Regions from separate parts of the Homo sapiens genome. Here region 2 is linked to region 1. Evidence: fine-mapped expression QTL. A gene starts in region 1. The other region holds a variant in brackets. All regions are shown on one strand. Distances are between the middles of the regions. Region 1 holds the start of SAYSD1 (SAYSVFN motif domain containing 1). Region 2 has its middle 38 kb from the start of SAYSD1.

The links. PIP is the estimated chance that this variant, and not a neighbour inherited with it, causes the effect.
Region 2: its variant is the best candidate, but not a certain one, in a credible set for the expression of SAYSD1 in whole blood (INTERVAL, PIP 0.89).

The regions. Positions count from the first base shown.
Region 1 is chr6:39,107,792-39,123,913 of GRCh38, forward strand. SAYSD1 (SAYSVFN motif domain containing 1) reads right to left here and starts at 7,395. Exons shown (of 2, transcript NM_018322.3): 1 at 7,092-7,395. The coding sequence starts at 7,298. It also overlaps the pseudogene ANKRD18EP. RefSeq lists an enhancer at 6,989-7,278.
Region 2 is chr6:39,145,167-39,161,288 of GRCh38, forward strand. No RefSeq gene overlaps it. Among named protein-coding and RNA genes, the nearest start is that of SAYSD1, 38 kb to the left of the region's middle. The variant A/C (reference allele first, on the strand shown) is at 5,909.

The sequences.
Region 1 (16,122 bases):
GTTCTGGCCCAAGAAGAATGCATCTGGGCAGTGTTCTGGGCAAAGGGGAGAGTAGCATGAGATGACGGGGCTAAGGAGGGAGGGCATGAGGGTGGGAGCCAGATAAAGTAGGGCCAGGCAGGTTGCAGTGAAGATTCTGGAAATGGGAAACAGCTGAAGGTCTAAGCAGGGAACTAACCAAAAGCATGAAATCCCTGGTGCTAAAAAGGTTGGGGAGGAGGCCTAGCAAGAGAGAGCCAGACATTGACCAGGGTGGTGACAGCAGTCAGATGGAAATAGTGGACTGATGGACACAAAATACATTCTGAATATACATGCTGAGATTCACAATAAACTAAATTTATCATTTAGGGAGTATAAAAAGAAGAATGTTCCTATGTCACCATTTACTGAGAGCCTTCCAATGTATGAACTCTGGTAATCCAGGAAGCAGGCATTATTATTCCCAACTTACTGATAAGAAAACACTGAGAGGTTAAGTAATTTCCCTAAAGCCATAAAACTAGTGATAGGCAGAGATGAGGTCAGTCTCGGATCCTAGGATGGTCTCCTCCAAAATATATTTTATTTAATTAGGGGCCTTTATGGGGGGTGGCAGGAGAAAGGTTAGGGAGCTAGAGGTAGATGGGTGTGGGGGTGGGGGGGTAAACAAACTGACGAAGGGAACAAACAAGAGGAGAGATACGGACATTCTTCTGCCTCATTTGGAACTTGTCGGAGTACCAGTTCCCTTCTGCTGTAAAACCTGGGTGAAGAAGTGTTTGTGACTGTTACATCACACACAGGCATGGCCCAAGGAAGGCACTGCCATTCCTCAAATATCAAGCTGCTTCTTACCTTAGGGCCTCTGCACTTGTGGTTCCCTCTGAGAGGAATGCTCCCTTCCCCTCATATCACTTGGTTGACCCCTCCTACTACAAACGGCAAAAATGTCACCGTATGTGCCCTTGGCTTAGTCCCCGTTTTTGCCAGGGTGGTTCCTTCTTGTTAAATGTCTCCTCCTTAGTGAGTTCTCCCTGCTCAGCTGATTTAAAATAGTACTCTGCTCCCCTCACCCCTAATTCACTATCACAGTCTACTGGTTTTATCTTTTTTCTTTCATAGCATTTATCTGGTTTTGTTTATTGTCCTCCTTTCCCTGCTGCCCCAAGCTCAAATGCAAGTTGTACAAGAGTAGGACTTGTGTGTCTTAATTACACTGTCTCCCAGGATTTAGAACAAAAGCTGGAACACAGCGGGCACATGACAAGATTTTTGTTGAATGAATGAATGATAGTGAGGGAAAGGAAGAAATTCAAGATGACTACTAGATTTTGCGGGGGTGAGGCACAGCTGTGCTTAGCCAGGCGACTCCAAAGGAGAGCCTTTGAGCAGAAGGCCAGCCTGAGCCAAGGCCTGGAGGTCAGGAGTGGTGGATGGGTATGGGAAATGGGTTCTGGGGCAGGGTGGTGTGCTGGGGGCTTGCCTGGGATATGGCTGGAGAGGGAAGCAGGAGGTTTCTGTAGGAATTTTTAAAAGTTACCAGCATTTTTGTCCTAATGTGGAAGAAGCTCGTCACAGAATTATTTCAGGAAACTGCTTTTCTCCAAGCAAAATCTGGTAGTGGGAAGGAGGATGTAGATACTTCCTCATCAATGACTGCTGAAAAGATGCAGCGGCATTGTCAGTCACAGCGAGGCCCGGGTCGGGGCAGAGGCATCATTGCAGTCAGAGCTTGGCCCAAATGGAGGCCGCAGTGGCTTTGTTGCTCCAAATGACATGGTTTAGTTATTTTGATGGCCAAAGAGTATTCTTTGTGCATATACATTACAGTTTCTTGATCCCTTCATCTGTAGATGGACAGGAGATAAAGTTTTTGGAATCTCCATGCCTGAGATTAAAAGGTGTGGGACTTCCTCTACCAGGCTCATTTCCTTGGACCTAATATCCTCTGGGTTTCTTGGGTTTCTCCACATGGCTGTGGATGACAGGATTTCCCAAAGCTTTATGGCTGAAGCATATTCCATAGTGTATCTGTATGGTGGTTTCTTTATCCCTTCAGCTGTGGGTGGACAGGACAGGTCATTTACCATGATGTCCTCTAGGTTCAACAGTGTGGCTGCAAATGATGTAATTTCATTACATTTTTCTGGATGAAGAGTATTCCATTTGTGTATATATACTACAGTTTCTTTATCCCTTCATCTGCGGATGAACAGGTTTCTCCACATGGCTGCAAATGACAGGATTTCATCCACTTCTGTCGTGGAAGGGTATTCCATTCTGGATATATATTTCAGTTTTGTCATCCCTTCATCAAGGGATGAACAGGTTCAACTGTGTGGCTCCAGGTGATATGATTTCAGTATATGTGCACAGCTGAAGGGTATTCCATTGTGAATGAATACTACAGTTTCTGTATCCCTTCATCTGTGGATGAACAGGTCTCTCTCCACGTTGCTGGAAGTGGGGTGATGTCCTAAAGTTTGATGGCTGAAGAGTATTCCATTGTGCAAATATCCTGGAGTTTCTGTATTCCTTCATCTGTGGATGAACACGACTGCTTTACATTTGGCCTGTGCCAATGGCCATGTGGAAGTGGTCACTCTCCAGGTGAACTGAAAGTGCCAGACTGACATTGGTGACAAATGAAACAGGATGCCTTTGATGAAGGCTGTACATTGCCAAGAAGAGATTTGTGTCATCATTCTGCTAGAATGTGGCACCAACCCAGATCTTATGGATGTCTATAGCAACAATGCACTACACTATGCTGTGTATAATGAGAATACACTACTGGCAGAAAAACTGCCCTCACACCATGTGAATACTGAAGTGCTGAACAAGGATACTGAAGTGCTGAACAAGGATGCAAACACACCACTTTTACTTGCTATAGTTTGCAAAACACAGCAAAAGGTGGAATTTTAGTGAAGAAACAAGCAAATGTACATGCTGTTGATAGGTTGAAAAGAACAGCTCTCATGCCTGTTGTACATTATGGCTTGTCAGGTATAGTTAGCATTCTTCTTCAACAAAATATTGTCTTTACTCAAGAGTATGTATGAACAGACTGCAGATTATGCTATTTCTGGTGGTCTGACAAGCACTCACAACAAATTTTGCAACATTAAAAAAAAAAGATACTTGAAAATGGTCTTCAAAATGACAACCCAGAAGAAGCATCCAAGAAGAATGCAAGTTTGAAAACAGGAGGAGCAAGTGCAAAAGATTCTGGGAGTTCTGAAGCATCTGCATTCAGTATTTAAAAAAAAACTGTGTGTTGACTCATGGCCTAAACCAGATGATGAAGACTTGACTTTTACTACCAAGCAGTGTATCCCTGAGAGTGTTTCAAAGTCTTTACTTGGACCTTCATATAAAAAAGGAAAAAATATATAGTAAATGGAAAGGGAGAAGGGCCTCCTGAAAAACATCCTTCCCTAAAGCCTACCATGGAAATGAAAGATTCTGTTGTGAAGAAAGCAATAGAAAGGAAGAACGAACAAACATCCAAAGCAGAACAAGAAGTACAAGTGACATCAGAGGAAGAACAGGAAAAGCTTGAAAGTGAAAATAAACAGCCACAGGTTGAAGAAGCTAGAAAGAAGCACGAAAGTTAAAAAAAAAAAGTATCAAAAAAACGTATATGATAGTACATCTGCTGACGATGATGATAAATTAATTCAACAAAGAAAGAGTGGAAAAACTTACCATCAGCGATTTCCTAGGAAGGAGAACAAAGAGTATGCTAGGCCTGCAAAGAAAATGTCAAATGAAAAGAAAAAGGTCAAAAAGCAAACTCATTTAGAGATGAACCTGATGACTTAACTCGGCCCTCTGAAACAGCTTCAGAGGATCATGAGAAACCTTACCCTCATTGTAAGAAGTTTATGATGCTCATTAAGCAATATGGAATGGATTGTAATGATTCTCGTATCCTAATGGAAGTCCAGAATGCATTTCTTTCATGTGAAAAGTCACTGGACCTTAAAAAAAATTATCTGTGAACAACTTACACTAGACAATAAGAAATATGAAAACTGAGTTTAGTGTACTGAAGGAGCTATCCAAAACACAAGAAACGAAGTCACAGTTCAATATCAAAAAGTAGAATGGAAACAGGAACTCTACAGTTTGCAGCTTAGAAGAAGATGAGAAGAAATGCTAATATGTTATATGAAAAAATTAGGGAAGAGTTAGAAAGGAAAGTGGAGCAACATAGGAAAGAAGTTGAAGTAAAAGAACAGCTTAAACTGACTATCGGATCACTAGAAATAGAATTGAAGGCTTGAAGAAATACTTTAAGAAAAAAAAAGATCTGATGCATGAAAATTGCTTGTTGAAGAGAGATATTGCCTTTATTGTGTATGTAAGTATACACAATAAAAAATAGGAACCTCGAAAGGGAAAAAGGACATTGAAATTGTTAAAGAAATGAATGATGACCTTCAAGAGACTATAAAACTGAATGGAAAAACATTAACAAAAACAGTATCCCAGTATGGTCAACAGCTTAACGACCTCAAAACTGAGAATACAATGCTCAAGTCTAAACTGGAGAAGGAAAATCAAAACAAGGAAAGACTGGAAGCTGAAGTTGAGTCATTCCATGCTAGACTGGCTGCTGCTATAAGTGAGTGTGATCAAAGTGTGAAAACAAAAAGAGACCTAGAACTTGCTTTACAGAGAGCACAAGACGTTTCTTTACAAGAAAGAAAATGAGTTCTGATATTTCTGAACTAAAAGATAATAATGAGTTTTTAACTGAGCAACTTTCCGAAGCTCGAATTCAATACCCTAAAAAGTAAACTCCATGACACAAGAAATTCTCTCAGAGAAAAGGTTTTGGTTTTATAAAGTGTACAAAAGGACCTAAGCCAAGTAAATCCTTTGGAAAGTGGGACTACGTAGAGGAGAGAATATCTCAACTACAACATGAAAATCTGTTGCTTCAACAACTAGATGGTGCTCATAAGAAAGGGGATAATGAACAAAAGGTAATTAATATCCAAGGATGCTGTCTTGAGAGTGAAAAGGAAGGTCTTCTGCTAGAAGGGAAAAATAAGGAATTAATCAATGAATGCAATCATTTAAAAGACTGTTTCAGTATGAAAAAGAGAAAGCAGAAGGAGAAGTAAGTATCAAAAAAGATAAATATTTTCAAACTTCCAGAAGGAAAATTTAAAATATTTGGCTACGGCTACATGTTGAACCTAGTTGAATATAAAAATTAATAGACAAAAAATGTGTTTACCATACTGTATAATTCCATTTACATGAAACATCCGGAAAAGACAAATGTATAGATAGAAAGCAGACTGACATTTGTGCGGGGCTGGGGTTGGAAATGGGTAGTAACTGCTAATGTGCAAGAGGGGTCTTCTTGGAGTGATAGAGACGTTCTAAAGTTGCAGTGATGGTTGCATGACTCAATAAATTTACTAAAAATCTTTGAACTGTATGTTAAAAGAGATAAATTCTGTAGTATGTAAACCTTATTTCAATAAAGCTGTTTCAATTAAAAAAACAAAAATTAAAAATAATTTAAAAAAATAGAATGCTAAAGAAATCTCTGACAGGCCACAGTGTGCCATCAAAATTGTCTGACATGAATTGTAAATTAGACTTTTTCTTTTCTAAACTAGAGGCAGAATCTGAAGAAAAAAAATTAAATGAGAATTTTCACACCAGAGCAAACCCAGAAATGATAAGTCAATGAAAATGAGCTTAAGGCAGAGTCCCTTATGGAAAAACAGAGCAATTAACAAGAAACTGGAGGTCCAGCATTTCCTCTCATCCTTTTGTCTGGCAATCAGCGTTTGGGTTCTCAATAATGGAAGTTTTTCTCTGAATTCAGTTTCTCTGGGTCCACCTCAATGATCTCATTCCTTTGGAAATGAGACATACAGTCAAAAGTTCATTGCATGGGTTAGACATTGTTTTTTAACTGCAGAGAGAAAAAGAATAAGGGAAATGGTTTCTAAAATCTTAAGCAAGTGTTGTACTTAGAAAGTTCTAGTCAACAATAAAATTATCCAAAGACAATTAACACAAACTGCACACAAGGAAATGGATTGTCTGAACTCTGCTGCGCTCTTTTCACCTTTCTGCAAGTCAGCTGGAATCCTGTATATCACTGAGAATATCAAATCAAAATTGAGTAATAGGTTCAGTAATTTTTAAAAATTCCCTCAAATCAAATGTTGTGCAATAATAGATGAACTTACAGGAAATAATTTTAAGGTGAGCAAGGTACACTTTTCTTCCAGTATATTTTCATTTTAAAAGGAATTTTTTAGTTCTTATTGCACTTATGAGGAACAAAGCACTGGGCACAAATTGTTACAAAGCACTCATCCCTTGATATGTTTTGTCTTGTATTTCCACATAGACATTTCAACCTCACTGCAAGCCACCTTACCATTTTACTGAGTTAAAACTAAATGAAAACACAAAAGGATGCAAATTAAATTCATCTGCAAAACAAGAGATTACCAAAACAATTAAATGTGAAAAGGTTATCATACTAAATCACTTTTTTTTGTTTGTGTCTTGAACATTCACTATGGAACTGGAATAAGCTTCTGCCACTACCGGCAGTTACAGCTACCACACTTTGGTAAATTCTGTATTCAAACGCATTTCTAAGTCACAGGCTATCTGGGCTACTAGCTGCATGTGCCCCAGGTGCGAATCAAATGAAGTTTTAATTACTGCTACTTGTGATCGGTATCCAATTAGACCTTTTACCCTCCTCCATTAGCAGAGGGCTGTGGCTCAACTTGGTTGTGGAGAGGTTTCCCAATGCCACAGGGCGTCACGATAACTCAATTCGGAGTGAATAATTTAAGAGCAGAGGTGCTTTCTCCCAGGACCCTCGACTCTCGCTGGAATCAGGACCTGCGTGGGTCGCGGGCTGGAAAGAAAATGTCAAAACTGGTAACAGTGCTGACACGTGTGGCCGGAGATGAGCGGTCCGGCCCTCGATCAGGATGGGGGGCCAGTAGCCCCGCCTCCGGCAGCTAGGGCCACACCCCCGGCAGCTAGGGCCGCGCCCTCGACTGTGGCTCCGAGGCCAGGTCCTAGGGCCGAAGTTTCCATCGTCTCACCTGAACTAGGCCGGGCTGGGCCCGGGCACTCGCGGGCCTAGGTTTCCATACCAGGAACCGCTTTAGCCAGCCTGGGGCTGCCTTTAGAGTCGCTGCTGCTTCCGCCTTCTCTCCTGGGGTTTGTGCGCCCTGACTGGCAGCAGGGGGTTGGGCCGCCAGACCCGCCCGTTTCCGCGCCGCCCGAAACTCAGCTAACCGCTGTTCCATGGCGCGCGCCTCGCGTCCGTTGGCCGATAAGGGAGCGCGCGCCCGCAGGCCGCACAGCAGTTGCCTCCGCTCGGCCCGCGCCGGCCGCCGTGCGCCTGCGTGGCAGAAGCCCCTGCTGAGCATGCGCACTGGTGTGACCCGCGTCTCCTCCGTTTGTGAAGTCTGGCGGGTCGCGTGTATACTCAGCCGTTCTCTCTTCACAGGCACGTGGACACAGTGTCACCTCCTCAAGCCAAGTCTAAAGCACAGGGCTGCCCCATTGCCCTCTCCCAAAGGCCGCTCTGCCTTGCTGCATCTCACTTAAGGGCTCGAGGCCCCACTGATCCAGCGTCCTGTATTCGGGATCTCTGTTGCTGGGCCCCAATGAACAGCGCCACAGTGAGAAGATGGTTCCAGGGGTTAGGAGAGGCCCGTGATCTCTACGACATTCCAGCGTCAGAGGAATAACAGGCTACATCTTACCCTTTTTCTCTTATCAAGGAAAGGGTATGCCAATCTTAGTACCTGGAGGGTGACTTTCTCACTGCTCACAAAGCAGGCTGTGCAGCTCCATCATTGGTCTTGCCACGTTGGGAAATTATCTCGTTTTGTGTCTAGATACGTCAGAACCTTAAAAAAACCAACAACAAAAACTTTTATTGGGGTGCAACATAAAATACACATCTTAAGAATATGACTCAGTAGATTTGCTCTTATGTATGCACCTGTGTAACTACCACCCAGATGGAGAGAAAGAACATTTCTGTACTCTGGGAGTTTCCTTGTGCCCTCTCCCAATCAGTACCCTCCCAAAAGGACACAGTTCAGGTTAGGGGCTGTTTTATACGTTCTTAAAGCTGTAAGCATCTAGCTAAGTGTCACTTACATAATTAAGACTCAAATATTTGTTGGATCTGGCTGAGGGTGACTCGAGAAATTAGACAAATTAGAACAGAGTCATCCATTCATTTAACAGACGTTTACCTAGGGCCTGCTCTGTCTAAAGTCACAGGCACTGGGGATGCTGGGATGAAAGGAAAAAACAAACAAAAACCTGTTTTCTTAGAGCTTACACTCCAAATGGAAATACAGACAATAAACAAATGTGTATCTACATATTTCATGTCATATCAGGTACTGATAAGTGCTGTGAAGAAAAGTGAAGCAAAGTAGGCAATGGTGGAGGTATTAGAGAAGACCTCCCTGAAGGTTTGTCATTTGGGCATAGACTTAAATGAGTGAGGTATGTAGATATCTGAACAGGAGTGTTTCAGTCAGAGGAACAAGTGCAAAGGTCCCGAGGCCTCAAATAGCACGCTTGACTTGTTCACAGAACATCAGGGAGGCTGTTATGACTGGATTGGAAGGAGGGAGAGGGAGGCAGGGAGGGAGGGAGGGAAGGAGGGAAGGAGGGAGAGAGGGGGAGAGAGGGAGGGAGGGAGGGAGGAAAGAGTGACAGAAAATAAAGATGCCAGGGGCAAGATCGTGCATGTAAGGCCCTGTAGGCCATGGTGAAGACTAAGTGTGGTGGGAAGCAGTTAGTGGATTTTGAGCAGGAGATGATATGATATGACATATTTTTAAAGGATTACACTGGCTGATGGAGGTGGGACCCTGGAAGATTGCAAGAATAGAAGAAGGGAAACTAGTTAGGAATAAATATGGTAGAATGAGAAACTGTAGTAGTTTGAGCTAGAGTGGTAGTGATGGAGGTCACGAGAATTGGTCAGATTCTGAATGTATTTTGAAGACCTGAGCCAACATGGTGTGAGACGGATTGGATGTGGAATGTGAGGAAAAAAGGTATCAAGGATGACAGGGCCAGCCATCGTGGCTCACGCCTATAATCCCAGCACTTTGGGAGGCCAAGGCAGGGGGATCGCTTGAACCTAGGAGTTCAAGACCAGCCTGGGGAACATAGCAAGACCTCATCGCTATTAAAAAAAAAAAAAAAAAAAAAGGATGACAGGTTTCTTCCATTACTACCCCACTCCTCCTGCCCCCCCATATACATACACACATGCCCTGAGCAACCAGGCAAATGATGCTGGGGCCCTCTATTGAAATGAGGGCACACTGGGAGGAGAGAATTACAGAATAAACACTGGAAGTTTTGTTTTGGACATACAAAGAACTTGGGATGCCTATTGGATATCCAAAAAATAGGCAGTTAGATAGTGAAAATGATTTGAGGGGAAAGTCAGGACCGGAGGCACACACTGGGAGTCATCAGCATGTGTATATTTAAAGCTGTAAGACTAGATAAGATCAAACAGTGAGTGTGGATAAGAAGAGATTTGAGGGCTGAGCCCTGAGTGGATTAGAGATGGTTTGTAAGAGAAAAGAATGGGATTATTACACCACAATGTCCTCTCTTTGAGAAACCACAAGAGGAAATTTCTTGCCCATTTTGGTGTCAGGAGTATGTCTGCTTCTCTTGAGAGATGGGATTCTTTAACCGATTTTGTCTCCCACTTGATAATGACTCTAAGACCTTAGGCCCGCATCTTGCAGGTGTATAGAATTAAGGCATACAATTTGTGGGCGGTTGCAGTCAGGGTCCCTGACAGGAAACGTGGCACCTTCCAAAGGGTGAAGTAAGAAGGGCTTAGTGAAGGAGTAAGTTACAAAGGTGTGGCAGGATGAAGGAAGCCAGCAAGGGATGGTTCACAGGAAGTGCTACCTGTCTCTAGGCCCAAAGCATCAGGAGGACAGAGCAGTTATCAGAACCCAGTGAGCCCTGTAGCTATAGGAGAAGCAAGGAGACACAGGAGCCCTTCAGGGAGCATAGAACAGGTAGAGAAGGGTGGAAAGAGGATCAGAAGAGGCAAACAGAACATCCAGGCCAGAGCTAATGTGGTTCCTGCTCTGTCTTGCTTTGGAAACCTTATTTTCTTTTTGCTTTGTTTTATTTATTATGAATTTACTTTTACTTGGTGCTTTGTAAGCCTCTTTAAATCCTTTTTGGAAGAGGTTAAAAGAATAGAAAAAAGAAAAGATGAAAGAGACCATCATGAAGAACAACTCCTGCCAAGCCAACTTTATTTCCTCTTTGGACGGGATTATGAGACTAGTAAATAAGAAGGGTCCCCAAAATGTGCTTAATGTGTGAATTTCATTAATTTTTATTATGAAATATTTTGTAAATGCCACATTTTACATATATATAATGTATATGCCATATACATAACATATATAATGTGTATGTGTCATACATATAAGTTATAAATAAAATACCCACATGATATGGTTTGGATCTGTGTCCCTGCCCAAATTTCATGTCAAATTGTAATCCCCAGTGTGGAGGTGCGGCCTGGTGAGATTGGATCATGAGTTTTTTTCTAATGGTTTAGCACCATCCTCCTAGTGCTGTCTTGTGATAGAGTTCTCACTAGATCTGGTTGTGTAAAAGTGTGTGGCATGGCTGGGTGCAGTGTCTCACGCCTGTAATCCCAGCACTTTGGGAGGCCAAGGCAGGTGGATCACTTGAGACAAGGGGTTTGAGACCAGCCTGGCCAACATGGTGAAACCTTGTCTCTACTAAAAACATAAAAATTAGCTGGGCATGGTGGCACACGCCTGTAATCCTAGCTACTCGGGAGACTGAGGCATGAGAATTGGGTGAACCCAGGAGGTGGAGGTTGCCGTGAGGTGAGATCGTGCCACTACACTCCAGCCCGGGCAACAGAGCGAGACCCTGTCTTGGAAAAAAAAAAAATTGTGGCACTTTCCTGCCCCTTCTCTCTTCCTCCTGCTCCAGCCATGTAAGACCTGCATGCTTTCCCTTCACCTTCTGCCATGATTATAAGTTTCCTGAGGCCTCCCCAGCTATGCTTCCTATATAGCCTGCAGAACTGTGAACCAATTAAACCTCTTTATAAATTACCCAGTCTCAGGTGTTTCTTCATAGCAATGCAAGAATGCACTAATACAGGCCTTGTTATAGAATTGAGTCATTGGCCCGATTCTATATTCCTATCTGTATCCACGCCGTAAAAGGCAGAGTAGACTTCCCCATTCCTTGACTGTAAACTCAGCCATGCAGATTGCTTTGGCCAAATGGGATGATGGCAGAAACTACGTGAGCAGGAACTTGAAGTGTGTTTGTCCTGTTAAATAAATTCTCTTAATATTCCACATTTCCATGAGATGAACTTGCAACAGCTAGCCAGCTAATCCAAGAATAATGAAAGACATCTAGGTTGTGGTCACCTGGCTGACCCAGAGACTTGCAGTTTAAAGCTGAGCTGCCCAACTGAGCACAGCCTCAAATAGCTAACCCCCAGCTTACCCTAAAATGTATGAAAACAAATGCTTATTTTACATAACTGAAATTTTGCAGTTGCATGTTACACAGCAAATGCTAACCAATACATACATACCCAATACCCAAGAAGAACATTTTAAGTTCCCTGTGTCCCTGTATGCTCATTCTTGATTCCCCACTCCTTTAATCTATTAGTGTGGTGGGGTATAGTAATCGATTTTCTGTTGTTAAATCATCCTCCATTCATGGAATAAATAAAACTCAAATCACTTTATAAAACATAAAACTCAAAGCTAAATTCAGTTTGAGAATTTTCTAGAAATTTTACATCTTTTGTTCATTAGTGAGATTTTCCTATAATTTTCTTTTCATGTGCTGTCCTCAATTTTAGATAGATTTTGCTAGCCTTATGAAATAAGCTGAAGTGTGCCTCCATCTTCCACACCCCCCACCCAAATTTTCTAGAACAGTTTGAACAAAATAGGAATTAACTGTTTCTTTAATATTTTGGTCGGACTTAGTAGTAAAACCATCTGGACCTGGTGTTTCCTTGTATCAGGTAAATAAATGTAATCTACAATTAACTGGATTCATAGCTGGTCAATTCACCCTTACCCAAAAAGGGTCAAGAAATGGATCAACATTGCTCTGTCCTGTTTGATATTTTTAGGAGTGTCTTGGGTGAAAATATGAGAGAGAATTTATCGTTTATTCAGGTGACAAAAATTTGGTAGAGAAGATCTGCAGTTATGCCTTTAGGGTAAAAAATAAACCAAAATGAATTTGATTCAATTTATTACGATTAAAGCATTGTGGGGATGCTCAGAGGGAACTGTGCTTCCTTCTAGATTTGCATTTATGTTTTTATATTATTGTTTTTGTTTCTTAATCATTGGCTTGGGAGCAATTTGTTTCAATAGGACTTGGAGCCTTTCCCTGACCACAGACTGGGTAGGAGGAGGGTTATATGGGGAATGTTTCAGCTGCTACTATGAATCCCATTTTCAAAGTGAGAGAGGATATAGTTTTTTTTTTTTTGAGACAGTCTCACTCTGTCACCCAGGTTGGAGTACAGCGGCACGATCTCAGCTCACTGCAACCTCCGCTTCTCGGGTTCAAGCGATTCTCGTGTCTCAGCCTCCCAAGTAGCTGGGACTACAGGCACGAGCCGCCACACCTGGCTAATTTTTTATATTTTTTGTAGAGATGGGGTTTTGCCATGTTGGCCAGGCTGGTCTTGAACTCCTCACCTCAGGTGATCTGCCTTCCTCAGCCTCCCAAAGTGCTGGGATTACAGGCATGAGCCACTGCACCCAGCCCAAGGATGTATTCTTGATACCCCCATGTATTCATGCTCTCTTTGGTCCTATCCTTGCAGGTACCACATACCAAGTTCTGAGCACTATGCTTTATATGACAAACCATATAAAGCAGAGGGGGGTAGCCTGGATAATGATGTGTCTAGAGCAGGATTTCTCAGCCTTGGCACTTTTGATGTTTTGGGCCAGAAAATCGTTGTGGGGGTTGTCCTGTGTCTCGTAGGATTCTTAGCAGCATCCTGGCCACCACCCACTAGTTGCCGGTAGCTTCTCCCTTAGATGTAACAACCAAAAATGTCTCTAGATAATGCCAAATGCCTCCTAAGAGGCAAGTTTGCCCCTGGTTGAGAACCACTGGTCTAAAGACCACATTGTAGTAAGAATGGTAAAGGCAGTGAGTGATTTGGGCCAGAGAGGGAGATTCACGGTGAAAACATACCAGTTTGTTTTAGAAACTCTGTTAGAAGTGCTGTTGTGGCCCTCTGGGCGACTATCTTCCAGTCTTCCAACAGGCTAGACAGGAAATTCGCCAGGCTGCTAATCTTCTCTTGCCTACTCCAGATTCCCAGCCATATGAAGACACCCTAGCTGGACGATCAGTTCTTGTTAAGAATCTGACCCCTCAAACTCTACAACCTCGATGGACCAGACCCTCCTTAGTCATCCATAGTACCCCAATTGCAGTCTGCCTGCAGGACCCTCCCCATTGGGTTCACTGTTCCAGAATAAAACTGTGTCCATTGGACAGCCAACCTGATTTCTCCTCTTCCTCCTGGAAGTCACAGGTACTCTCCCCTACTTCCCTTAAACTCACTCGAATTTCTGAAGAACGTAATAACCCTCATGAGCCTAATACATCCCTTCATTCTATTAAGTCTATTCATCCTTACCCTCCTTTTTGCAACAGGGCTTTACGCAGTCACCCCCACTACTTGGACTGCGCCCCAAAAACTTGTCATCCCTACTATCTTCTGTCTAGTCATACTCCTATTCACCATTCTCAACTGCTTATAAATGCCCTGCTCTTGTTTACACTGCCAGTTTACACTGTTTCTCCAAGCCATCACAGCTGATATCTCCTGGTGCTATCCCCAAACTGCCACTCTTAACTCCCTCTTAGAGTGGATAGATGATCTTTGCTGGCAGGGCACCCTCCAATACTTTCACCCTGATAAAGTCCTATTCCTTAGTTTTATACTCTTATTCTCGTTCCCATTCTTATGCTACCCTCTACCTCTCCCCAGCTATCTCCACCATACTATCAATCTCAGTCACTCTTTCCTAGCCGTTTCTAGTCCTTTTTTAACAAACAATTGCTGGCTTTGCATTTCTCTTTCCTCCAGGATCGCCAAGGCCTCGACTTACTCACTGCTAAAAAAGGAGACTCTGTATATTTTTAAATGAAGAGTGTTGTTTTTACCTAAATCAATCTGGCCTGGTATATGACAACATAAAAAACTCAAGGATAGAGCCCAAAAACTAGCCAACCAAGCAAATAATTATGCTGAACCCCCTTGGGCACTCTCTAATTGGATGTCCTGGGTCCTCCCAATTCTTAGTCCTTTAATACCTGTTTTTCTCCTTCTCTTATTCGGACCTTGTGTCTTCCGCTTAGTTTCTCAATTCATACAAAACCGCATACAGGCCATCACCAATAATTCTATATAACAAATGCTCCTTCTAACAACCCCACAATATCACCCCTTACCCCAAAATCTTGCTTCAGTTTAATCTCTCCCACTCTAGGTTCCCATGCCGCCCCTAATCCCGCTTGAAGCAGCCCTGAGAAACATCGCCCATTATCCCCCCAAAATTTTCACCACCTCAACACTTCACCACCATTTTGTTTTGTTTTTCTTATTAATGTAAGAAGACAGGAATGTCAGGCCTCTGAGCCCAAGCTAAGCCATCATATCCCCTATGACCTGCACGTATACATCCAGATGGCCCGAAGCAACTGAAGATCCACAAAAGAAGTGAAAATAGCCTTAACTGATAACATTCCACCATTGTGATTTGTTCCTGCCCCACCCTGATAGACATATTCTCCCCCGCCCTTAAGGTACTTTGTAATATTCTCCCCTCCCCTCCCCCCACTCTTAAGAAGGTACTTTGTACACCTATCCCAAACCTGCAAGAACTAAATGATAATCCCACCACCCTTTGCTGACTCCTTTTTCGGACTCAGCCCGCCTGCATCCAGGTGAAATAAACAGCCTTGTTGCGCACGCACACACACATACACAAAAGTGCTGTTGTGGTGAAGGAGAATCATTCTGTGGGACTCCAAGGGGTAGAACTTAGTTGGAAATTACAAGATGACAACTGTGGAATCTTAAAAAAAAAAAAAAAAAATTGGCATCTCAGTTATTTCAGCAATAGAATGTGCTGCCTTGCAGAGGCAATAAGTTCCCTGACACTAGCAGTATTCAAGCAGGGACTGACTGTCTACTTGTCAGGGTACTGTAGAGGGAAATTGGAGAGCTTCATATTTCAATCCAAGTAGACTAAACTAGGAGGAAAGAATGGAAGACTTTGGGGCATTTGAGTCTAGAAGTCTTAGTTGTAGCTATGATGAGTAGCATAAGGTACCGGTATGGCTACCCATATCCCCTTAATCTCACTGTTGCTGTACATGATGATGGCTTTTTTCCCCCACTTTTTTTTTTCTTTTTAGGGACAGGGTCTTGCTCTGTTGCCCAGACCAGAGTGCCCTGGCGATTATAATTCACTGCAGTCTTGAACTCCTGGGCTCAAGCAATCCTCTGTCTGAACCTCTCAAGTAGCTGGGACTACAGGTGTGCATCACCATGCCTGGCTATTTTTTTTTTTTCTTGTAGAGACTAGTTTTTGCTATGTTGTCCGGGCTGGTCTGGAACTGTTAGCCTCAAGCTATCTTCCCACCTTGGCTCCCAGAGTGCTGGGATTACAGCCACTATGTAAGCCATTGCACCCAGCCCTGATGGCTTCTACAAGCACCTGGGGGCTTTCTCTGGCTGCAGGAGTGTGTTCAACTAGTACATGAGGCAAATTAGTAGTGGTGGGAGACTATTCCTCTCCAACCCTGAAAAAGTCTTCAACCAATTTTAGATGGGAGTTGGTGGATAAATACCCTAGCTCCCTCACTCCTTATGGGGGATGATTCTGATGTGTGTTCCCCAGAGTCTCCCAAGAGTCTTCGGTAGGAATGAGCCTCAGTTGCCCACAGCTCATTAACACACCCTATATCACCTTTCTTCCCTTTCCTGTCTCACTTCCC
Region 2 (16,122 bases), 37 kb after region 1:
CTTTGAGGGATACTAAGCCCTGAAGATGCCCTATGAGAAATGTGTTCAGCGCTCAAAGGTATTCAAGAAGAACTGCATAATTGCTCCTCTTTTTGAAGACTCACAAAGCACGGTAGCATCATTAAAGGCTCTGAGAAGTTCTGCAGCAGAAAACAAGCACACAAAACATCCAACCTGTTTCACTTTGATTAACCCAGAATTTCCAAAACTTGTTATTTTCCAAACTGGTTTTTATCTGCTTCTTTGGTGTAACACCTTTGAACATGCCCAGAATCAACAGCGTGTTCCAAGCCAGGCTCTGCACTCACACTCTCTAGATTCACCTCATGGATCCCGGGGGATCCATGCTTGTGCCAGGATCCCGGAGGAAGTCTCTTAATCTCTCCAAACCTCAGTTTTGTCGTTAGTAAAATGGTATTAATAATCCTAGTTTATAGGGTTGTTGTGAGGATTAAATAAGATCACATGTGAAACATCCGCAGCAGGCACTTGATGAGGTTGTTATTAAAACGCTAAGGATGTGTTTCCCTCCCTGCCTGCAGCAGTCATATCCTGTCCGTCTTCATGTTTCCTGGTCCATCTGTCTCTGTTTTCTTAACCTTCAACTTTGGGCTCAACTTTGGGTTCATTATGAAGTCAGCACCCACCAGCCCAATAACCTTGTGTCTGTGGTTCTCATCTACCAGTGCTGGGGGCAGTTTTATAAATCACTTTTTCTTATCCCCATCCTGAAACTGGACTACAGTGGGGAGTGGATCAGAGGAGGTCAAGAAGCTACTTTTTGCTAGCCTATGATGAAAAGTTTATGGTTTGTGTCCTAATTTGAGAAACGTGGGGTTTTTAAAATGAGACATTCCTTTAAAGGCACCCAAGTGTTTACAGCTATAAATATCGCAATGCAATAAAATCTGGCTGGGCCCTCTGGCTGGTGAGAGACAGACACCCAGCCCCGAGCTCAACAACATCCAGAGGCAGGACATCATATTCATGGAAGATTCTGGTTAGTGGGACTCTGTTCTATGATAAGATTTTAAATCAATGCAAGAGCACCAATGCAGTTAATGCAATGTTCTGTGCCAGGCTGGCTATTGCTGATTCTTTCTCTGCTTCTTAGGTCATCACGACAGCTCTAATCACAGGGCCTTGTCTCTCTCTGATGGGCCTGATAAGGAGGATCCAGGGAACCTTCCTGAACCTACTGGGTAAATGCAGAGAGGAGAGCATCATGAAGCCACTTTTTAGTGAGGTCTTTTGTAGAAGTAGGAGTCAGGGCACAAAGCAGAAACCACTCTGTCAAGCCCCAGTCAGACTTAATCCAAGCAATCAGATGTCAGGGGCCACCCCGAGGCTAATGGTTCAAGATCACATTTCCACAGCTGCAGGTCAGAGGTCAGGAACTGCTGTTGCTGCCCCTGCTGCTGTCACCATGGTTGTTGTGAGCCCATGAAGCTGGTGACCAACAACTGGAACTTGGTGTCTGGCTACTGCAACCACATCTGCCCCTTCTTGTTAACTTCTTCCTTCTAAAATTGCCTGAATGTATCTCAGCCTAAATCTCTCTAGCTCCAAGGGAGTCTAAAAAAGTAATTTAGAACCTTCCAGCCCTTGTAAGACAGGGGATGGGGGTACATGGAAGGGCATGGGCTGGATTCCAGAAGACTGTCTTAGGCATCTCTTCTAGACAAAACAAGAGTAGCTTGAATTTATTGCCTTCAATTTGCCAGATGCTGTGTTAGATGGTTTACATATTTATCCAATTTGATTTTCACCGCAGCCCTCTGAGGAAGGTATAATAATAACCCACTCTTACAGATGAGAAAACTGAGGTTCAGTGACACTGAATAAATGACTCAAAGCCTGTGATGGTGAATTTTGTGTGTCAACTAGGTGATAGTGGCCAGTCATTTGGTCAGACACCAGTCTAGATGTTGCTATGAAGGTATTTTTTAGATATGATTAACATTTAAATCAATAGATTTTGAGTAAAGCTGATTACTCTCCATAGTGAGTGGGCCTAATCCAATCACATGAAAACTTTTGAAGACATCCCCTGAGTGAAAAGGAATTCAATCTCCAGACCGCCTTCGAACTCAAGATTGCAGCATAAACTGCTGGGACCTGTTGGCCTATCCAGCAGATTTTTGTTTTTGTTTTTGTTTAGAGATGGGGTCTTGCCATGTTGCCCAGGCTGGTCTCGAACTCTTGGGCTCAGGCAATTCTCCTGCCTCAGCCTCTCAAAGTGCTGGGATTACGAGTGTGAACCACTGGCCTCGCCCAGCAGGTTTTGAACTTACCAGCCCCCAAAATTATGTGGGCCAATTCCTTAAAAGAGTGCACTCTCTCCCTCTCTCTCTCTGTCTCATATATATGTATATCTCCTGTTGGTTCTGTTTCTCTGGAGAGTCCTAATATGAAGTCCAACAAGAAGTAGTAAATGGTATAGGTGAATTTCAAATTCAGGCTTGTCCAACTCAAAAGCCCATACTCCTAGAAGAGAGACTTCAGACAGTCTCATCTTCCTAGACTTTCAACAGCTCTTTCAGTGCTTGGGGAGCTCCACACTCAGTGCAGGAAAGGTGGACCATGTATTTGGGGACATCCCAGGTGAAAAGAAAGCAATGGTCCACCTAACTATTGTAAACCCAGGTTACGAGGGGATTGCTGAATTTGTTCAAAAGTCATTCTTCAAACATTAATTGAGCACCTCTGAGGGGTCAGAGACTGTGTCAGGCTTAATACAGATGTAAAAAATACATTCAGAGCAACAATAGCAATTGTATTGCTCCTGACTTCCAGTTTGCAGATGATGGCCTCAAGTTAATATTTTCTTGGAAATCACCTAAAAGCAACAAAGATGTTTCCTGGAAACTCAGGAAACCTAAAAGCAACAAGCAGAACAAGAAACAGAAATTCAAATTCTATCTTTATAAAACTGTAAGAAAGCTGAAGCCCTAAATAGGAGGAAGAATGTCAAAAGATGTAGAAACAGAGGAAGAGCCAGGGAGGGAAGAGAAGAGAGAGTGCAGAGGTTGCAGATCTCAGGGAGCTGGCAAAGCGCACCTATCCCAGGTGTTATGGCACACCTGAAGTTCTTTTGTTGTTGTTTGTTTGTTTGTTTGTTTTTTGAGATGGAGTCTTACTGTGTTGCCCAGGCTGGAGTGCAGTGGCATGATCTCGACTCACTGCAACCTCTGCCTCCCAGGTTGAAGCAATTCTCCTGCCTCAGCCTCTGACTAGCTGGGGTCACAGCCATGCGCCATCACTCCCAGCTAATTTTTGTATTTTTAGTAGAGACGGGGTTTTGCCATGTTGGCCAAGCTGATCTCAAACTCCTGACCTCACGTGATCTGCCTGCCTCAGCCTCCCAAAATGCTGCGATTACAGGTGTGAGCCACCACGCCTGCCTACACCTGAAGTTTTAAAACACAAATCTTTTGTTTATAAGAGTGAGAATTGGGTGCTCAGACAGGAATTGGAGGTTCCCTGCATCCAGTTTGGTCCTGGGGAAGAAAGAAGGGGTGGCATGAAGAATGACACAGGCAAGCCAGGTCTGCAGGAAATAATCAGTGTAGGAGGGGGAGCAAAGAAGCTTTCTTTAGTACCAGGCCATTGGCTGTCTGTATGAATGATGTGAAGAGAAGTAAAGACTCCTACTGACATCCCTGGGTTATAAGGAAAGTTCCTGCTGGCTTGGAACCTGACTTCCTGCATGAACACCTGCAAGTATTTAATCAAGGAAAAACACTCTTCATTTAAAGTTTATTCATCAAAAGTCTATAAAGGTGATTTCTGCTTCTAAACAAGATGGACTAACAGGGACTGGATTTACCCTCTGCCTGAAAAAACAAAATTAACTAAAAAAGCAAATAAAATAATTAGAAGCAATGATGTTTAAAATATTGGATATCATACAGTGACATTCAGTGATCTCTGAGAGATGGGAAATAAACAACATGAGCCCTACAATTGCTCCAGGTTACTGCTCAGAGAGAGTTTTTAAGTCATGGCCCAGAGAGGGGAAAACCTGGATATAGCATGGTGGTCTCTTAGTTCAGCTGGAAGACCTGAAAGGCTAAGAGGGTTAGAGTTTTCAGAAAATAATAACAGAGAGAAGAGAGCTTCTCTGTCTCTGTCTGTCTCTCTGTCTGTCTCTCCCTGTCTCTGTCTCTCTGTTTCTCTCTCTCTCTCTCACACACACACACACACACACACACACACACAGAGAGAGAGAGAGAGAGAGAGAGAGTGAGAGACAGAGAGAGAGTGCTCCCTCCAGAGATCTATAGAGGGCTGGCTTGAGTCTTCTGCTATGTACTGATCAGTGAATGCACGTGAGGCAATTACCTGAGGCCAGGTGGAACAAGAACTATCTGAAGGATTAGAGGAAAAGTTCTCACCTAAGATCAGGTACAAGGCAAGGAGGTCTGCTCTCACCACTTCTACTGATACATGCAACAACATGGATGAATCTCATAAAAAATTATACTGGGTAAAAAAGCCAGACCAAACAGACAGTATGTATTGTATGGTGCCATTTGTAGAAAATTTTAGAAAAATGCCAACTAAAGTGAAAGAAAACAAACCAGTGATGTATGGGAATGGAAAAAAGGGTAGGAAGGGATACAGGGAGACATTATAAAGGGTACATGGAAACTTTTTGGGGTGATGAATATGCTCACAATTTGATTGGGGCAATGGTTTCATGGGTACATGCATATGTTGAAACTGATCTATCAAACTGTACACGTAAACATGTGCAGTTTTTGTATGTAATTACACCTCAATGAAAAATACACAAGAAACAATGAAGAGCAGGACAAGAAAAGCCAATGAAACACAATAAACCAATAAGTGGTGGCTCTGAAGAAAAAAACAGAAATCATGTAACAGAACAAATATTTAAGGATACAATTTATCAAAATGTTTCAGAAACCAAGGAGAACATTAATCTAGCTATTGAAAAGGAACAACAGATTCCAGAAGAAATGAACAAAAGTCCTCATCACTGAGACATATCCTAGCAAAATTACTGTACTTCAGAGATAAAGAGTCTTTGGGTCAGCCAGGCAAAAAGGCTAAGAGAAGTGATTTGTTAACTTTAGGCTTCTCCAAATTAGCATGCAACCCCAGAAGACAGTGGAACTAATCCTAAAAGCTCCCCAAAGAAAGCAAGTGTGATCTAAAATTTTTACACCTGGCTTTTTATTTTTTAAAAATGTAAAATCAAACATTTTTGTGTATGCAAGAAATTAGGAAAGATTGTTCTTATAAACCCTTCCTGGAGAAACTATTAGAGGACCAACTTCAACACTAATGATGCTCAAAACAGAAGATAATAACGAATTACACAAGGAACATTGCCCAGTAAAGAAATTGACTGTCCATTGTCAGAATGGAAATGCCTGAAGAGGATTTAAATGTTTTGAAAGAGTCTGGTAACTTAATGGTACAGGAGCTAGGAAACACCAGTGTTTCAGAATACAGCCAAGAAATAAATGCAGAAAAGCAACCACGTCTGACAGCAGTGGAGATTAAGAATTTCTAAATTGATATACCACGATACTGCTGTCCAGTCTGCCTGAGAAGGTAAGGTCGGGCTAGATTTTTATAAGATGCCCTGGGAATATGGAATGTTTACCCTTCTTGGGAGTGGGACACTTGCCATTTTCTTCAGGGGAAGACTTTTTCTATAATGAGTGGAAATGTCAAGTGATTGAACAATGGATTGCACAGAAATTTAAAATGATCTTGGCAGAATTAAAATAAATCATTTAAAAGTTATCAGATTAATTTTGGGGACAAATAAGAACATTTTAATAGGGCTTGTATTTTAGATTTTGGAATTATTGTTAATTTTCTGAGGTATGAGCATGGTATTATGGTTGTGTAGGAAAGCATCCTTATATTT[A/C]TAGAAGATTTATGTTGAAATATATAGGGGTGGAGTTCCACAAAATGTACGCTTTGCTTCCAAATTTGTCAGCAAAAAAGTGTATGTCATACCTAAGGAAAAATAAAATACAGTGAAATGGAAATAATGAGTGAATATTGGTGAGGAGTATATGGGGTATTCATTATACTAATCTTTCAACTTTTTCTGTAGGTGTGAGTTTCCAAAATAAAAAGTTATTCAATTCAGAACAGAATATCAAAGCAGCAAAGATATCTTTTAGAGAAATCAAGACCTAAAATAAACATCTTCCTGAGGAAGTATCTGGGCTTAAAGATACAATCAGTTGACTCGAAGAAACAATTCAAACGCACAGAAAGATGTGCTTACAGTTTGGGGAACAGAATATCAAGAAGACTGGAAAGCTGAAACTCTATGGAAAGGTTACACATCCTTTTTCTGTTTTTCTTTTGAGATGGAGTTTCGCTCTGTCACCCAGGCTGGAGTGCAATGGCATGATCTGGGCTCACTGCTCTCTGCCTCCCAGGTTCAAGCAATTCTCCTGCTTCAGCCTCCTGAGTAGCTGGGATTACAGGCACCTGCCACCAAGCCTGGCTGATTTTTGTATTTTTAGTAGAGATGGGGTTTCACCATGTTGGTCAGGCTGGTCTCAAATTCCTGACCTCATGATCCGCCCACCTCAGACTCCCAAAGTGTTGAGATAACAGGTGTGAGCCACCGTGTCCGGCCAGGTTACACATTTTTACAGGTAATTTTATTTTAAAACTTCCAGACAGGGGAGCTCCCTAATAAAGATTATCTAAGCAAAGTGAAGAGACAATGTCTTGACACTACTAAGTTCAAGAAGAAAAAATTCCAGACTTAAGTCGGCATGGAACAATTATTATTTGGGAAGGACAAGGTTGTAATGAATGAAATACTGAGCTCAGGAAATGAATTACATTGTATTTGAAATCTCAGAAAGTCCTAGAAGCAGCTCTATTGCACAAAGAGGATGAAACTCCCATTTTGAATAATTACACTGAGCTGCTGAAACACCTGATGATCAGGGTGAGAAGACAAAAAGTCAGAAAAGACAGACAGTAGCTACCGCTTCAACAAAATTAAGATCAGTTGGAAACAGTGGAGTCCATTTCCAATTCCGACTGTGTGATGACGTGTCAGCTAGGCAAAAGCAGGAAGCACAGAGAAGTTGGACATGGACCTTGGACACAGCATTTCATCAAAGCTCACCTGAAAAATGGATGCACAGCCTTGTAGCTGAAGCACAAGTTCTAAATGCCCTGGACAGGCAGAGAGGCATGGCTCCGCAGGAGAATGGATAGGAAGAGGGAGAGCAAGAGCTCTCAGCAGCAGAGGAAGTGAAAGCTCATCAGCAAGTAATTTAAGAACTGGAGGATGAATTACAGGGTGGGTGGGGGATGAGATCTAATAAGACCTAGATTGCTCTTAATGGTCGGAAAGTCCGTGACAGCAGGCATACCGCTGGTGCTGCAGAAAGAGCTTTAGTTGGAAAGAAGAGGCAAACTGCCAGACCCGGACAGAAATTAATACAAGGAAAACCAAGACACCAATGCTTCAAACACCAGTGGCTATAACTCCAGGAAGACACGATTACCAAATCCTATTATAGAGAGCTCTCCTGTGCCAAAGCTGATCTTTTGGCCCACCTGCCAGAACTGGAGGTGTCCTCTCCCCAGGGTCTGCTACATGAGTTGCTGGGTCCAGTACAAAATAAAAATGTGTGTCTCTTGATCGAAAAGCAAAGCCTGGGCAACATGGAAAAACCCAGCCACTACCTAAAATACAAAAAAAAAAAAAAAAAAATTAGCTGGGCATGGTGGCACACACTTGTAGTCCCAGCTACCTAGGGGACTGAGGCAGGAGGATCACTTGAACCTGGGAGGTCAAGGCTGCAGTGAGCCAAGATTGTTCCACTGCAGTCCAGCCTGGGAGACAAAGTGAGACTGTGTCTCAAAAAAAAAAAAAAGAGCAGGAAAAAATGCCCCTGAAGGTACTAAAATATATAGCTCTTTCCTTTCTTCTGAGGTTTGGTGCTTTCTGTCAACTTGGCATGGTATTTTTTACTTGCCACTTAAGGTAAATCTCAGTAAAGAAAAATTAAAAATTGTAATTATACCGTTCATCTTTACATTATCTAATGGCAGTTTTACTTATGTATTTAGAGACAGAGTCTTGCTGTTCCCCAGGCTGGAATGCAGAGGTGCAATCATAGCTCACTGCAGCCTCAAATTCCTGGGCTCAAGCAATCCTCCTGCTTTAGTCCCCTGAGTAGCTGGGACTATAGGTGCATGCCACCATGCCTGACTTATTTTTTTTTTTTTTTATTTTTTTTTTTTGTAGAGACGTGGTCTCGCTATGTTTCCCGGGCTGATTTTGAACTCCTGGCCTCAAGTGATCATCCTGCCTTGGCCTCCCAAGGGGATTACAGACCTGAACCACCATACCCAGCCCACCAATGGCAATTTTAAATGCAAATATAACAGCATTTCTCTCATATGCAGAATCACTGAAATGATACAATTCTCATTTTTTTAGCTTATATATGTATATATTATTTTGTTCTTATCAGAAAAATGGAAATGTTGCACAGAACTAACTAAACTCTTTTTATTTCACTTCCAATATACCTACGTTCCACCAGCATGCTCTCTCTTCAGATGACTGAGGAGTGAGGAAGGACTGAGGGTAAAAGGAACCATGTGCTGTCCTGTCTTTCCCTCTCCTTCTGTGTCATAATTGTCAGTGTCTATGGCTGGCAAATACAGGGAGGTGGCATGAGTGAACAGGATGTGAATGAGGATGTGACAGAGTTCCTTGGTCCTTCATGTTTCTTAGAACACCGTTGCCTTCTTTCTGCATTTAAAGCAAGTTCTGGTTCAAAGGGAAAGTGTGGTCTCAGCTTACTCACTCAATACACATAACACACTTACGTTGCTCTTGCTTTGTGCCTTGTCTCACTTAACTCCCACGCATAGAAGGCCCACCAGAATTCTGTGCTCAGAAAACCAAAACACAAATTCAAAGAGAAAAGTATGAAGAGTTTCAAGAAGGCAACAGCAGAGCATTAGACCAAGCATGAGGCCTGAGCACAGGGCCATGTGCCACTGCACACACCGCATACCCAGAAGGCCAGCCCTGGCTCCATCCCACAAGTCATCATGGGCTATCTGGGCGAATCCTTTTCTCTCTAAGAGTGGGATCTAGAAGGGAATTTGCAACTGTCAGTCAGCCTCTACCTGGCTCTGGAAGCCTCTCACATTCCACGATGGATGACATAATTGATATTGTCCAAGGAGTACCAGCATGATCTCACCAAAGAGAGGATGCCATTGTCCTGGGTGAATGTACCACCTCCTAACCTAACCTTAGGCACCTCCATACTTTTTCCTCCCAGAGTCCTCCTGGGCCTGTTCTTCCTGACCAAGAGAAGATTCCCTAGACTTTCATCAGGAATAAGGGTCCTTCAAGTATTTCATGGACATCCACTTTCTAGATCCATAGTTTCTTGGCCTAAAATGATGTATTCCTTCTGGTTCCCACTGACTCCTCCCAACCCCATGGCCATCCAAGGAGAGGCCTTCACATTTCAGTGTCTGCACTGCCTCCTACATGCATTTGTTCTCAATGTCGTATACAGGACATTTCAGGGGCTTCTCTCGGACTTTTACCCTGAGTCCCTGAATAGAATTTTTAAAACTTTTCATATGCTTCAAAATGAAATATGCCTTTACCTTGAATATTAGACTTGTGCTTACTATTTTTAAATGTTCTTTTTTTTTTTTTTTTTTTTTTTTTTTGCTGACCAAGCAAGTCGACTCTGAATTTTGTAGAAGGGAAAACATTTGTATTTATTAACATGAAGATCACCTCTGAAGCTTTATCCTGCTACATACCTGTTCTAGTTTTAGTTCCTGTAGTTTGGGTCATTGATACGTCTTTATTTTTTTATTTTATTTTTATTTTTTGAGACAGGGTCTCATTTCTTGCCCAGACTGGAGTGAAGTGGTGCAAACATGGCTCACTGCAGCCTCGACCTCCTGGGCTCAAGTGATCCTCCTGCCTCAGCAACCCCCAAGGAGCTGGGACTACAGGTGGATGCCACCACACCTGGCTAATTTTTGTATTTTTTGTAGAGACGGGGTTTTACCACTTTGACCAGGCTGGTCTCAAACTCCTGACCTCAAGTGATCCGCCCACCTTGGCCTCCCAAAGTGTTGGGATTACGGGTGTAAGCCACCATTCCTGGTCTTGATACATGTTTTTACGTGTTAGGAAAAATATAATATGTTTGAATAATTTTTCTTTCCTAAATTCAAACACACACACATACACACAAATTGTTCCCATTCTCACAGTAGAAAATGACTTCATTGATGAATACAAATAGCAATCCCAAAACGTTTGTCAACAGCTCCCTGTGTACTTATTCCCGGAATGGTACCGACAGCTAGAAAGCACAGCTACCCTACTCAGAGAATTGAAGAAAGCCAAACCACGGCAACAACCAAGCCTTGTACATCTTGCAAGGGGTAGCTGGGGCCTCAGCTCCTCTAAGGAGCCCCAGATCCTGGCCCACCCCACACACTGAAACCATCCTTCTCTGTACTTCCTTGACCCTTTCATTTTCCCATTCTGTTACCCTCTGCCTACCGCGAACTTTTTTTTTTTTTTTTCCAGAGAATAACCTTTATTTAGAGTATTTGGCCCCTGAATTTTTCAAAGTATGTCCAGATACTCTGGCATCAGAACCCCACCAGAGTTGGGGTGGGGAGAGTTTTAAAGTGCAGACGCCAGCCTCCTCTACAGACATTTTAAAGCAGACTCTCTGGGACTCCCAGACATCTGCAGCTTTAACAAGTTCCCTAGAGAACTCTAATGCCCACTAAAGATTAAAAACCACTGACCTGGTCCCATTACCCATTTTACATTGGAGGAAATTGAGGCTCTGAGGTCACACAAGTCAGAAGCAGAGCAGTAGGGACTAAAGCCTGGGTCTTTTCACTCTTAGCCCATCCTGAGTCCCTAAACCAGCATCTCTAGTTTCTCTGCAGTTTCTTAATCTACATCTTTATCCTTGGCCACCTTGTAAACTCCTAAGCAACAAGGACCATATGAATTAAATTGAGTACCAGGCACAGCGTTGGGTGTGAAGTCACAAATTGTTATTTCAGCAAGTAGATTAACAAATGAAAAAAAAAATAAATGAACGATGATGCCTACAATGAGGCTTTACAACTTTCCAGTTCATTTTTTGTTTGTTTTATTTTTTTTACACAGGATCTCACTTTGTTGCTCAAGCTGGAGTGCAGTGGTGAGATCACGGCTCACTGCAGCCTCAACCTTCCAGGTTCAAGCAATTCTCCTGCCTCAACCTCCTGAGTAGCTGGGATTACAGGCACGTGCCACCATGCCTGTCTAATTTTTTATTTTTATTTTTGTAGAGATGGGGTCTCACTATGTTGCCCAGGCTGGTCTTGAACTTCTGGGCTCAAATGATCCTCCCCTCTTGGCCTCCCAAAGTGCTAGGATTACAGGTATGAGCCACTGTGCCCAGCCTCTGGTTCATTTTAAGTTCACTTTGACATGTCTTAATTGCTAGCCATTGCACGTCCTCTTTGGCAGAGGGCTGGGTTTAAAAGATAAAATAAATGAAGCTGAAAAAAGCAAGGTGTTCCCATGGAGCTAAAAACCCCTGGCCTAACTGTTCAAGCACCCAGCACAGGGTCCCCAGAATGACTCCCCAGCAGAGCTATCACCCTCTTCCAGCGTCAGCACTCCACCCACACTGTACTGTTTTAATACCTTGACTATGGCTTTATTCCCTCTCCATGTGGCCAAGGTCAATATTTATAATTGTTTGCTGCCTCCCATTTGAGCTGCTGGTGCTTTGCTTACATAAACATCCACCACCCCTCAGTTGGGTCAGGGGCTGGGAAGGAGAAGTTCATTAGTCTTTATGGCCATAATAATATTTCATGTCTAGGCAGTGGGGGGATCTGCCCATGCCTCCCTGAGATGCACGGCTGGCTGCAGGCGCTGACTATTGATTGCATCTATAATAATAGGATGGCTGCTCTCTGAAGTGGGACATGTAAATACCTTGACTCTTGGGTGGGAGGGAAAAGGTCTTTGTTGAAGGCAGAAATGTGTCATGAGTGTAGTTTTGCTGGAAATGGTCTCACCAGGTGGCATCTCTTTCCCACAATACCTTCACCCTGCCACTCACCCTGATGCCTCATCTTCTCGAAACAGAGAGATGGGTGGAATCACGTCAGTTAACTTTGATGAATAATAGTATTTGAGCATCTGAAGTGAATGGGCCCCTACAGATCTTTGAGTCCAACACCCTCATTACACAGATTAGGAAACTGAGGTTCAGAGAAGCTCCTGCAAATTCAGGACGTCACTTAAAAATGCTAGACTCCTAAATGGATATCCAGGATATTAACATTCCTTCATTCTAGTAGATAACGACTATGTACTAGGGGTAGAACTGCTTCTAGCCCATAAGGTGCCTTTTTGCAAGTAGGAAAAGGCACCACTTCCTCTCCATGGACGTGGGCCTGCATCAGGGTGCATAAGTGGCAAGCAGAGTGGCAGCTGGATCTCAGCCCCCTGCTGTCCCTTGTACGGTAACAACCTGCACAGTTGTCACTGGAGGCTCTGGCTAGGGAAGGACAAAATTTGTCCCTGAAGACAGGCCTGAGCCTTATTTACCTCTCTAAATTCCATCTCATCTAGAGCTATGCCTGGCCCACTGCAGGTGGAAGATAAATGCTTACATAAGGAAAGAAAAGAAAAAGGGGAGAAAGAACAATATCCAATTTCCTTGGGAACTTCATCAGTGAAACTTTGTGAAGGAACAAAACAAGCAAAACCCAAACAGCCAATTGCTAGGTCTGGTGCAGGAAAATAAAGCAAAATGAAATAGAGTCCAATTAGTTTGCTTAAACAATATTGAACTCCAGAGGAAAACGGAAAGATAGCCCTGCTGACATTACTGAGAGCTGCGGAGAGGGACCAGGCAATTATATTAGGGAAAACAGATAAGTTTGTGGGTTGCCAAATAAAGAAGCAATCACAGAGATAAAAGCAGGCACTTTCCCCAAACGGAAAGCATAACTAAATCATTCATCAGCTTCCCATGCAGAGCTCAGGCACCTGATCTGGAGACAAATAAGGAGGGGTTTTTTTTTTTTTTTTTTAAATGGTGTTATCTTGAATAGGCTGATTCCTTTGCCTAGAGCTAATCTGGATTAATCTGTCTTCCCAGGAGGCTATACAATTCTTCCTTTTCTCCATAAACCTTTGGAAGGACAGATGGTCACTTATCTGCAAATGAAGTTTGAATTCCCTCCCCCATGACAGGGGTAGGGAGGAGTCTTGGGGAGATGAGGGTGTCAAGAGCAGGGAAGCAGAGGAAAGGAAGAGAGATAAAATCTTGTATCATGTGCTGGGCGCGGTGGCTCACGGCTATAATCCCAGCACTTTGGGAGGCCAAGGCAGGTGGATCACGAGGTCAGGAGATCGAGACCATCCTGGCTAACACAGTGAAATCCCGCCTCTACTAAAAATACAAAAAATTAGCAGGGCGTGGTGGCGGGCGCCTGTAGACCCAGCTACTCGGGAGGCTGAGGCAGGAGAACGGCGTGAACCCGGGAGGCGGAGCTTGCAGTGAGCCGAGATCGCGCCACTGCACTCCAGCCTAGGCAACAGTGACTCCGAAAAAAAAAATTCTCGTATCATGTTTAGAAGTTCAAAAATATCTTCAACATTTTTCTGTCTTGTTTATTTAAACAACAAGTCCCTGTCCTTTTAGAGTCAGCTTTGGCATGTGTCACCCTGGAACAGGGATTTTGTCATCTTTTTGTAGTCACAGACCCCTTCGAGAATCTGGGCAAATGATGTAGATACCCTCCTCAAATAAAAAAAAAAAGACATATGCATATGTTCATACACTTTCACAATTTCAAAGGGTTCATGCGCCCCCTGAAGCCCATCTGTGGATCCCAAGTTAAAAACACCTGTTCTGGATCCCAGAATGAAACCTATTTTGGAGAGGGTCCTAGAGGCTTCAGTGATAACACCAAATGATCATTTTGCATTTTAAATAGGTTTGAAGACCTCAATGCATTAAGAAGAGAATCTCGAAAATGACATAACTTAGAAGCATTAGTGGGGGCCCTGCTAGCTGAGATCTCGGAGAGAAGGAGGAACTGGCAGGGAAGTGCTAGCAAAATCTTTGTAAGGGACAGATACTTTAATACTCAAGAAGTTACATCTTAGGCTGGGCGCGGTGGCTCACGCCTGTCATCCCAGCACTTTGGGAAGCCGAGGCGGGCGGATCACCTGAGGTCGGGAGTTCGAGACCAGCCTGACCAACATGGAGAAACCCCATCTCTACTAAAAATACAAAATTAGCTGGGCGTGGTGGCGCATGCCTGTAATCCCAGCACTTTGGGAGGCCGAGGTGGGCAGATCACCTGAGGTCGGGAGTTTGAGACCAGACTGACCAACATAGAGAAACCCCATCTCTACTAAAAATACAAAATTAGCCGGGCGTGGTGGCACATGCCTGTAATCCCAGCTACTCGGGAGACTGAGGCAGGAGAATCGCTTGAAACCGGGAGGCGGAGGTTGTGGTGAGCCAAGATCGCGCCACTGCATTCCAGCCTGGGCAACAAGAGCAAAACTCCATTTAAAAAAAAAAAAAAGTTAGGTTTCCATGAAAGTTTAGCCTGTAATTCATGAATACTACCACAAGGTGGGAGTGCTGCAGTCATACGTCTCTTCTAGGCAAGCTTCTGTGTGCATACTTGTGGGTTCCAAAACTAAACCAATAATTTTCCACTCCACTTTTTTTGATAACTCAAGAACAAACACAGAGAGCCAAATACTCACCTATGAAGTGCACATTGCTGATGTGGGCATTGGGGATAGAAAGATAAAGAAGACACATTCCATTCTTTTTTCTTCCTCAAGTAATAATTTGCCATCATGAGGCTCGATTTTCATTCCTCAAACTCTTTCAACCATTTTCTCTTTCAGAGTCAGGTAATGAGTACCTATATACCTTTCCTTTCACTTTTGTAAAATCTGTGTGAGATATACCTGGCATTTTTCCTCCCGGATCTCTTGAACTCTGAGATGATGTAGTCTCTTTTCTCTGATTAATCAAAACAAAGAATTATTTATTAAACTAGCTCACTACGATACAGATGAAGAAATATTACTAGTCACCAAGGAGTTCACTAAGCTGTCTTCATAAGCTAATGGTAGAGTTCCTAGATGTGCCATCTCTCTGTCATCCCACCACCAAACATATATACACAGCCACTCTTTAGGCTATTGAGAGGTAGGTCTGCTTCCACGAGGCAATTTGGCTGAGGCCTTGAAGGAAATTTCTCTGATTCTCTCTCAACGTACTTGCCTTCCCTTCTCTGAATTGCCAAGCCCTTATGGTCAGGCATTTAGCATACATTACCTAGTATTTCAGCTACTTGTCTCCCCAGGACAGGGGTGTGTTTCCTTCTGTTGGGGCATCTTTAGCAAAATGCTCAATAAGCAGCAGTGGTCAAATGCACCAATCAGCAGGATGTAAGCAGTCAGAGAAGAGTAGGGGGTGGGCACACTGGGCAGAAGGAATCACAAGCACAAAAACACCTAGGCAGAAAACTCCAGGCCCTCACAGGAGACGATGGTTCCTCCCATTGTGACCAGGGAGGTGTCACGAAGATGGAGGAAGACAGAGGGCTGGAAGGGTAGGGAGAAGACAGACTAAAGGGACTTTGAGTGCCAACTTGAAGCACCTGGATTTGGCTCAGCAGGCAAAGGGGAGCCAGCGAAGGTTCCAGGTAAAGAAGATCTCAGCAAGATGCAGAAAAGGCAGTGTGAGTGAGCAAGGAGCAGTGGGAACACACTACACCGATTCAGGGGTGAGATCATAGCAGGTGCAACTGTGCAGTGCCCTTGACAATGACAAGAAGTGGACTTGAATGAGACAGCGAATGGAAGAATAAATTAACAGGACCTGGTAGCTGCATACGGGGTGGCCAAAGAGAGTGACCTGGGGCCTGTGTGGAATGAAATGAAAAGGCTTTGCGGCCAAGACTCACATTCAAAAGAGTATCACATGCAAACTTTTGTCTCCAATTTGAACATACAATTACAAAGACACACACAAACAAGAT